Linked DNA regions of Homo sapiens: all the other regions are reported to be linked to region 3. The links are microRNA targets in miRTarBase. Many come from high-throughput screens and were not tested one by one. Region 3 holds a microRNA gene; each other region holds the end of a gene's coding sequence.

What was found. The annotated mature microRNA hsa-miR-4757-5p reads AGGCCUCUGUGACGUCACGGUGU and lies in region 3 at 1,549-1,571, shown strand. An mRNA with a match to its seed (bases 2 to 7 or 8) in the 3' UTR can be bound and repressed. Matches are read on the target gene's strand: a 7mer-m8 pairs with bases 2 to 8, a 7mer-A1 pairs with bases 2 to 7 and ends in A, and an 8mer does both.
Region 1: the mRNA of CACYBP is a reported target of hsa-miR-4757-5p. Seed matches in the 3' UTR shown: 7mer-A1 at 1,117-1,123.
Region 2: miRTarBase lists VAMP1 as a target of hsa-miR-4757-5p. Seed matches in the 3' UTR shown: 7mer-A1 at 523-529, 7mer-m8 at 877-883 and 7mer-A1 at 1,747-1,753.

The regions. Positions count from the first base shown.
Region 1 is chr1:175,009,733-175,012,986 of GRCh38, reverse strand. CACYBP (calcyclin binding protein) reads right to left here. Exons shown (of 6, transcript NM_014412.3): 6 at 960-3,064. The coding sequence ends at 2,908. It overlaps MRPS14 (mitochondrial ribosomal protein S14), which reads left to right. Exons shown (of 3, transcript NM_022100.3): 3 at 1-29. Among named protein-coding and RNA genes, the nearest start is that of CACYBP, 11 kb to the right of the region's middle. RefSeq lists a silencer at 128-328.
Region 2 is chr12:6,461,500-6,464,706 of GRCh38, reverse strand. VAMP1 (vesicle associated membrane protein 1) reads left to right here. Exons shown (of 5, transcript NM_014231.5): 5 at 221-2,470. The coding sequence ends at 237. TAPBPL (TAP binding protein like) reads right to left here. Exons shown (of 7, transcript NM_018009.5): 7 at 2,391-2,673. The coding sequence ends at 2,558. Among named protein-coding and RNA genes, the nearest start is that of VAMP1, 7.6 kb to the left of the region's middle.
Region 3 is chr2:19,346,891-19,350,144 of GRCh38, forward strand. MIR4757 (microRNA 4757) reads left to right here and starts at 1,539; the gene lies at 1,539-1,615. It also overlaps a transcript of OSR1 not described here. RefSeq lists enhancers at 637-696, 847-1,116, 1,167-1,296.

The DNA of each region.
Region 1 (3,254 bases), not on the chromosome of region 3:
CAAAATTCACATTAAAATCTAATCCACAATGCGTTGGTATTATTAAGAGGTGGGGCCCTTAGGGGTGATTAGGCCAGGAGGGCTCCACACTCATGGATGGGATCAGTGCCTTTCTAAGAGGGCTTGAGGGAGAGAGTTTGTCCCTTTTACCCTTCTGATACTGCGAGAAGGCACCGTACTGGAAGCAGAAAGCAAGCCCTTACCAAACACCAATCTGCTGGTGCCAAATCTTAGACTTCTCCAGCCTCCAGAAGTGCAAGAAGTAAATATTATTTATAAATTCTTAGTCTATGGCATTTTGTTACAGCAGCAGGAATAGACTAAGACAATGTGTTGATAGGTTTAGGGTCATGTTTTACTTTTTCAGTCATGTTAAATTTTAGATGGTTCTAAAGTCAAAACTCTAGAAAAAGTTAAATTCACAGAATAGCTTCCATCCTCATCTCCTTCCTTCCCCTGCTAACAATTTTTATTAGCTTTGGGTTTACTCGTTTCTTTTTGAAACATAAGCAAATACACCTATGTGCATACATTCACATTTCTCACCCTTTCTTACACAAATGTAGTGGGTATACCATAAATGTTCTGCACTTTGCTTTTCCACTTACTCTATCCTGGAGACCATTTTACGTTATATAGAACTCTTCATTGTTTTGTGACTTAAGTACTCCCTCATGTGGATGCACCATAATACATTCCTGTTAAATAGACACGAGTATTTTTAATCTTTTGCATATAGCATTCCAAATTTTTCTAAATGTACCTTTCAGAGCCCAGAAAGAAGTTAAAATTCTGGGTCAAAGGATAAATGAATATGTCATTCTGATGGTTATTACCAAATACTCTTTCTGAGACAAGAGTCTTACTCTGTCACCCAGGCTGGAGTGCAGTGGCACAATCTCAGCTCACTGCAACCTCTGCCTCCCGGGTTCCAGTGATTCTCGTCCCTCGGCTTCCCAGGTTCAAGTGATTCTTGTCCTTCAGTCTCCCGAGTAGCTGGAGTTACAGGCATCTGCCACCATGCCCAGCTAGTTTTTTTTATTTTCAGTAGAGACAGGGTTTCACCATGTTGGCCAGATGGTCTTGAACTCCTGACCTCAAGTGATCCGCCCACCTTGGCCTCCCAAGGTGTTGGGATTACAGGTGTGAGCCACTGCACCTGCCCAAATATTCTTGTTAACCAAAGTTTAACTTTTGCATTCCATTCCCATATATGTGTCCTTATTTCTCCACAGCCTCAACTCAATACAGTTGTTTTTATACTTCTTTTTCAAGTGAAAGGTAAAAACACTGGTTTATTCTCTTCTGAACAAGGTGAGCATCTTTACATGTTAAAGGTCATTTACATTTCTTTTTGTATGAAGTATTCTTAATTATTGGAATCCTGTCAATACATTGTTTGCCTTGGGTTATGGTGGGGTTTTTCTTGTCCTATAAACATTTTTATGTAGTTAAAATTGATCAATAGTTTTATTTATTTCTTCTAGGTTTTAAGTCACATATAATGTCGTTTTCCTCCATTTTCTTCTAGTATTTGTATGCTTTACTTTTTACAATTAGATCGTCAGGCGGCTTGGAATATATCTATATGCCTATTTTCAGTTATCTTAGTATCATTAAAAACCCATCTTTACCCCACTTTTACCATATTCTGTAACTTTCATATGCATTGTGTCTGCTATTCTGTTCATGTGTCAACCCCAATTACAGAGGCATAATGTGTTTCAGTATTTACTTATAGCTATCCTATACATAAACTGTTTCTGTATTTTAAATCCTACCACTTCTTCCAAATTCCCATATTAATTGTAGCTTTAGTTTAGTTTACCCTTCTGGATTTTTCCTGTGTGTCTAACGGCTTTTTTTTTTTTTTTTTTTTTAATGAGACAGGTTCTCAATCTGTTACCCAAGCTGCAGTACAGTGGCATCATCATAGCTCACTGCAGCCTTAAACTCCTGGGCTGAAGTGATCCTCCAGCCTTAGTAGCTGGGATTACGGGCGCCAGCCTTCATGCCTGGCTTCAATTGCTTTCTCTGATCTAACTGTGTTGGCTAATACCTCCAGGAAAATAAAGTAATGGAGATCACAGGCACTGGTCCTGACTTCAGGGGGAATAGGAGTAATTCCTACTAAAAGCCTGATTTTTCTGACATACTCCTAGACAAATAAATCATAAAACTGTTCTAATGAAGAAAAACTTAACTTTATTGAGCATAGGAATAGACGGGCTTTCAAATTATTTTTTGCTTTATGGTTATTACTTTTATAAACCATCTGATCCACGGCAAAACTAACTGGTACCATACAAAGATATGTCTATTATTGTCATGTTTAGATTTTCTATTCCACATTCATTGACAAATATATTTAAATCTAGATAGAAACACCTGTGATTGAATTAGTGCATGGTAATGCATGGCATATACATTGCTTAAGGTGGTAATAAGGGGTCAGATGCTCTACAGCAACCTTCAAGCACAGGCACCGATTTGCATTTTATGCAAAACTTCAGGTTTTACTCAATTTTTACACTGGTGGAAGCTGATGTCAGTAACTTAAAAGGCAAGCAAATACTTTTCCAATTCTTAGCTGAACAAAAAATACACACAATGTAGCGTTTTTATTGGGCAAGACTTGCTTTTTATATTTCACGTGAGAATGCAATATAACCCTTCCTTGAACAAAATGACCAGGGTACTAATAAAACCATCTTTGCAGGAGTGTTTAATAAGCATATTTTATTTAAATAAATCCTCCAGTAGGAAATGGAGAATTCATTGCCTTTACTTAGAAGGCTATGTAAATAGCTATCTGTCAAATTTATATATGCAGCTCACCAATATTCCCTTACTGGAAACATCAGTATTTCCACATCACATCACAGTTCCCAAAACGACTTTAAAGTCTCAAAATTCCGTGTCTCCTTTGGCTTGCTTCTCTCTTGATTCCACCCAGGCTTTATTAATGGTTCGCTTCATATCATCGTCTCCATCTTCATAAATTTTCTTTAGAACATTCATCAATCCCTCACTAGGATCTGTTTCAGTGTCATAGGAGGGCTTCCTTTAAAAAGAAAACATATACAACAATGGGGAAACGAAAGCACCGGAAGATACTATCATTCAGGTTGTTAACACTGGCAGGAAGTAGAGGGATAAGAAGGAAGACAGAGTACCCAAAGATATTTACAATCAAAACGGCACGCACAAATTCATCTTAATGAAAACAACACACACGTATCAAGCATGCACAC
Region 2 (3,207 bases), not on the chromosome of region 3:
AGCCTTCCCCCTGCAACGCATTGCAGGGAGATGGCGCCTCCTGTTCTGAGGAAGTGGGGCTATGCTGTGTGTCACTGGCTTGGGTTGGAGGGAGACCATGGGGATGGGGCACTTAACAATGGAGAGACCTGAATGTCTGGTAACTTGGTGTAATTCACCCTCTTGTTTTCTCCTGTCTCTTTCTCTTTTCCGTCTGGGACTTCCTGATTCCTGTGTCCAGTCTACTTTTTTACTTGAGAATGTACCACCCCTTCCCTGTTGTCCATTGCCATCCACATTCATGTCCTCTGCCCTCTGTTTGCTCTCTCAACACACTTCCCCACCCACCGTCCTCCATTCCAGCCCAGGCTTCTCCATCACCCATTCCTCCTTTTTCGTTGCGTTCATTTGCACTCTGTCCCTCAACACTAGAAATGCTGCTCGTGGCACAATCTAAGTCATTACCCGAAGAGCAACAGCTGGCGCCTCCTCCCTGCCTGCTTTTTCTGTACTCTCAAGTTCCCCCAAAGCCCCAAAGAGTTGGAGGCCAAGGGAAGGGGCAGGGAGGGGAGTGGCTGAGGCGAAGTACCCATGAAGCTGCCCAGACTTGGGAGGAGAAGAGTATCGGTGCCCATGGTGACTTCTAGAAAACCTGGCCACTGGTAGGAGCTAGGGAGGGGCTGGGAAGATGGCAGCTCACTCAGTACTGCCTGGTCATGTGGAGCTTTCCTTCCTGGACCAGGCCTGAAGAGGGTCCTGGGGGTGGACCAAAGTCCAACTTGGTTTCAGTGCAGTACCCTTTTCGAAAGTAAAAACTTGTTTTTTGTAGTTATTTCTAATCTGTTCGTCCAGGATTTTCCGTGTCTTTGGGGATCTTACAACTTTACTTTGTTCTCCAGAGGCCTGGAGAACACTTAGGGATTGTGAAAATAGCAGGACTTGTTTCCATCCTAGAAGCAGTCCCATGTGCTTCTAGCTGGAAGGAGCTTTCTCTTCTTTACATTTTCTACAGCATTCTGTATGAGGGCACCAAATAAATCCATCTAGCTGGTAGTTTTATCTAGCCAAATAATTTAACCTAGCTCCCAGTTAATTGTTGGCATAAAGAGAGAGATTGCCTGTTAGTTATAGAGAAACAGTGAGTCAAGTGCTTAATTTGAAAGTAACAAGCTCAGAGGAAGCCACTCCTTGCCCTCGTTAAAGAGGGTCCTGTTCCTCTCTTCCTGTTGATGAAGGAGCGTGAGGGTGTTAGCAGTGTGAGATCTTTGGACACCCATGGAATCCTTTCCTCCACACCACCCGTGCACTTGCCAAAGACAGGGATGAGGCAAGTGGTTCTTCCTGGGGCCCGGCCGATCCTCAGGATGCAGAGAAGTCATGTAGACCCACCAGCCCCACCTTGGGGGGAGGCGTGCCAGCCTGTGTCAGGTGTGCTTGTGTATTGCTGTGCTGTCATGGGGCCCTCTCCTTGAGAGCCGCCTCTCTGTTCTTCCTGTAGTATATTCCCCTTTGAACCACCCTTTCCTGTCTGAATTCTACTTTGCCTCCTTTCTCTTCCTCCTCTTTGCATGGTTTGTGTGTATAGACAGTGGAACCTGAGGATGGGATCTGCTCAGCCTATCTTCGGGGCAATTGCTGAGCTTCAGGATGGGCTATTAATGTGGGATAAGCCCAGGTGCAAGGGGAGGAGGGCAGGCTGGGAACAGAGCGGAGAATGCCCATGGCCCTTTATTCCTTCTTCCCTCGGTCCACGAACAGGAAGAGGCTGAGGCCATGCTGGGCAGGGTCTGGATGCCCACTTTCCATGCAGCAGCATTTCATTGCTCAAAACCATCCTTCCTTTCCTTTCGCCCTTGTTTCCCACATTCCCTTCGTCCTGCCCAAGGGCGGGACTGAAGAGCTGGAAGAAAGCAGTCAGTACCCTCCCAACGGCCCCCCTCGAAGGTCTCCACTCTCCTCTGGGCTCCTCCTTGCCTAATGCAGGGGGTCACCGCTGGAGAAGAACCACCACTGTCCTCGATGTGTCCCAAGCCTGGAGCGAATCCGTCCTCTTGGCTCTCCCAGCCCTATCACAGGAATCATTCCTGGGTTTCTGTCCCTCTGAGGCTCACCAGGTGTAGTTGGCCTTGTTCTTTGGGGGTATTAGCCCTTCTACTTTCTTTCTCACCCACCCTGTACCCTCTTCTGTGTGTCTCTGCTATCCCCCTTTCCTCCCACCACCCATGTGCATGAGCAAATGTGCAACAAAACCCTGGGACTTTGCAGTCAAATGAAGCTGAGCTTCCCACATCCCGTTCTTCGGTTTGCCATGAGACGATGTGGGGTTTCCACTGTGTGTCTGTCATCACCTCTTTGTCTTTTTTTCCTAACCCTGATCTCATACTTGTATAGAGTAATAACAACAGTTGTACTTCCACCAAAGGCATGTGGCATATTTACCAATGTCATGTATTCTGAACAAAGGCAAAAAATACAAATTCCTACCATTAAACTGGCTTGGTTGTTGTTTGGGTTGGAGTAGCTGTGGGGGCTTGGGGAAGGGTGTCGTTTCTTTCTAGTAGTCTCATGTCGCTTTAGGTCAGCTGGGCTGGCTTACACGCGCTGTGCGGTCTTCATGGAGATGGGAGCTCTGTGTGTCAGCACAGGAAGTGGTCTCCCAGCGTTCAGCCTGAAGCAGCCCAAGTCCTGTAGGTGCTGGTAAGAGGAAGTGAAGACAGGAAGTTGCGTGGGCATCTCACACTGGCAAACAAGCACAGGTTCCCTCAGGCCTCTTCCATCTGCCTCCTGTGCTCCTTCCTAGGTCCTTGGCCTGCTTGTCCTGTCCCAGGGGATGTGCCCAGATAAGGCTGTCAGTGAACACCCCCTTACCCCCTTTTCCCCATCATCCTCACGTACAGTTTTGGTATGCTGAGTTCCACCGTATTGATTAGGCACATTTTAGAAACGAATAAAAAGGAGAAGTCTCTCCTTGCAGCTGAGGGAGTGAGGCATTTGCAGGTATCCTGAACCTCCCAGCAGTCACCCGAGGGAGCAGAACCCTAATTGCAGCTGAGGTGCAACTGAGATGGAGCCACGGGGGTGCCTCTGAGGGCCTTTGTTTCATACTTAAACACTTTGCAAGTTGGAGCCGCTAGGCTTGGTGACAGGGCTCAGTTGGGACCAGTGTGGAGAAAGACAGGAAAGTGGAAAAGCTTGGTCGCAGCAGACACAAGGGCCTTTTATTTTGAC
Region 3 (3,254 bases):
CTCCACACCTCAGTCGCCATAGGTTGTTTTTTAACTCCCTGGGTTCCACAAACGTGTGGTGAGTAGCGCTCTGACATAGGGCCATGACACATCATCCCAACCAAACATAACAATTTGTGAACTGATTAATCCATTGCTCCCTACGTCATTGAAAAAAGGCTTTTTGCCGGGGGTTTCAAGAAGTCCACCAGTTCAGTGATATTCTTCCTCTCTCATTTCATTTCAGGATGCCTCTGTTATAATAAAGATGGGGGTGGTATCTCCTGGGAATACAGTAGGTTGGGAGGCAGGCTACGTCAAAATGCTGAGAGGCATTTCTAAGCATCATCATCATCAACATTTACAAGGCCTTCATACATGCCAAAGTTGTTCTACAACACATTAGGGTAGTTTTTGGTTCAAGCAGTGAATACATTATTGGCAAAATGTGTATTACTTTTAACTCTACACAAAGTGAATGAGGTAGGTAGGAAAAGCCCTACCCCCATTATAGGAAGAAAACTGAGGCTAGTGAAGCACAGGGACTTCCCCAAAACTTGTGCTTGTCAGAAAAACCTAGAGCTGGGTCTTCTGGCCCTTCCCCTCAATGAAAGCACAGCTTCGAATTCTTTCTCTGCCACTGACATGAGATTTGTCTCCAACCTAGCATCTCAAGTCCGTAATGAATTTTTCATCTGAAACATATGCCAACTGGGCCCAACTACCAACTGGGCTCTAGAGACGGCCCAGGAAGTCGGGATGAACGGGTGGAGTGGGACACCAGGGCGTTCCACCGGGCTGAAGACCGTCTGAGAGCTCTACCTCAGAGAGGCTGCCCAAAAGAGCTGGGACCGCAGCGAACTTTCTGGCCTTGGGTAGGACCCGCCGCGCCACCCTCGCCAGCTCAGATCCCAGGGGCCTCTGTAGGACCGCGGCGCTGGACTGGGCACTCCAAGTCAAGGGCTCCAGCCCGCATTAGCCAAGCGCCACCCACTTTCTCGTCTGCATTTTCTGCCCACACATACGCCAACGGCTGGATGCGCCCGCCGGGCCAGTGTGCCCCTGAGTTTGTGATCCCCAAAAGCAAAACACTGAACTCCGCGACGATTTCCACGCACCGCCGTCAGCTTCCGGACTCCGGCACCAGCAGCACTGGCCTGCGAGTTCCTTTTGCGCCTGCGCGTGGCGCTTGCGCAGTGGGAGAGGAGGGCGGGGCCGCAGTGGGCGCGGCCATAGTGGGCGCAGAAGTGGGTGGGATGAGTACGCCGCGGCAACTGCTGCCCTGAAACCCCGCGGGCAGGGAGACCACTCTAAACCACTGATTCAAGAAGAGGACGCTGCAGGGCACCGCCCTTCACTCAGGACAGCTGCCAACGCTTCGGGTCTGCGGATCGTGTTAGTGGAGACGAACCGATTCGTGGCGCCTGCCTGGGCCGATTCGCGGGGCGGGGCGGGGCGGGGCTGAGAGGTGTGGATATGTTAGCCCGAGGCGGGGCCCATCTGTGACGTCACGAAGTTACGTAATGGAATGCCTCTGTGGACCTCATTCAAGCCTTGTGTTCCAGCCCGAGGCCTCTGTGACGTCACGGTGTCTGCGGGAGGAGACCATGACGTCACAGAGGCTTCGCGCTCTGAGAGGTGGGACGGGACTCTTTTGAGCCGGCTATGGGGACACCAAGATTCTAGGGGATTTAGGATATCAGGTCCTCAGGTTCTGGGAGCTGAGGTCACGTCAGGGAGTCCCAGAGCATCACATTGCGTCCCTCCCCACAATGTGAGCAGTGAATTCCGCGGCAAGGAAGTACGCGGGAAAACATTTTTTAGTGGGTCCCTAACCCCTAACTACACTCTGGAAATAGGGGGTAGAACCTGAAACACTCTCTCCCAGGAAGAAGCTCCTGCAAGCTGTTCTTTTCCCTGGAAGCACCTGATATCTTACCGGAGACAGCATCTGGCAGTTCCGGGCTGTGCCCAGGGTCTCTGGCACCTTCCGCCCTCCCTGCCCAAGAGGCTGTCCTAGGCCAGATAGCTTCCCCAGCCGTACACAAAAACTTCAGGCCTAGCAGCTTTGAGAAGGGCCCCAGCTGAACTCCACCTGGCCAGCACCATCGGCCTCTTTTTCTCCTGAAAAATAGCCCCAGCAACGCTGAGCGCCACACAGTCACTGGGACCAGCGAAGCTTATTGTGATGGGGGTCTGGAGAGGAGACAAGAGCTGGGACTTTCTAGAGATGCATTGGGGGAAAAATTGGGGCAGGCAAGGAAACCCACCCAACATTTCTGACCCTCTCAATTGCACTTTTTGTGCAACCCACACTGAGTATGAGCAGGAAACTGGGGCACTAGTTTCCAACCACATCAACCAACCACATCACCTGGGAATTGTAGCCTGGATAGGGTCGGATGGCCCACAGGCCCAGCCGGCCTTTCCACCTGTAGTTACTGTTTCTGCACAGTCTATGAATCACTAGAACAAGCTGCAGGGAGACGTGATCTCTGAGTCCACCGGGATAACAGCAAACATCAGTAGAGCAAATAGGGGCATTCTGAGAGGGCCAGGGAGTTGCTGCGCATCATCCTGTCCCACCCTCCATTCCCCATCCCCAATTTAAAATTCTGCACTGGAAATCTGTTATTTTGAGGATGCACACTTGATACTGACATTCAGTTGCAGACCTTGGACTGGGTGGGTTTTCACAGTGCTGGAGGTGGGGTGACCCAAAAAGGATTAACGTGGCTGGCAAACCTCCCCATTTCACCGCATTTGTAGCTTCCTGAGGCCCCGGGAACTGCAGAGGCTCGATCTTCAGGGAGGTGGAATGATGTGTTCTGGGAGGTGGAGGGATGTCAGGGGCTAGGGAAGAGCAGCCATAGACAACCCCAAGGATAGCATCCCAGAAAGAGCCAAGGGACTAGGAAGGGCACCCTGTGTGTGTGTGTGTTCACCCATGCACTCTGGTTGTTTTGGAGCAACCATGGCCCGCAGCCTCCTGGGGCTTCATAAAGAAACCAAGGAAGATTCTGCAGTTGACCCTAGTACAAGCTATGGTCAGGCACAAACCACACCACAACCTGCGTGCGCCGCTTGGGCGCAGACCGTCTACACCACCCGCAAACCTACTGGCTAGCCCCACTTCCACGCACTCAGAGGCCCCAGTTCTCAGGAATGGGGGCATAATCCTGGGCCGCGCGCGACCTTGTGAACTGCTTGGAAGAAGGATTGGGATAGTGCCCAACTAATGAAGATCCCTCAGACCAGACCAGACTCAGCAGCGC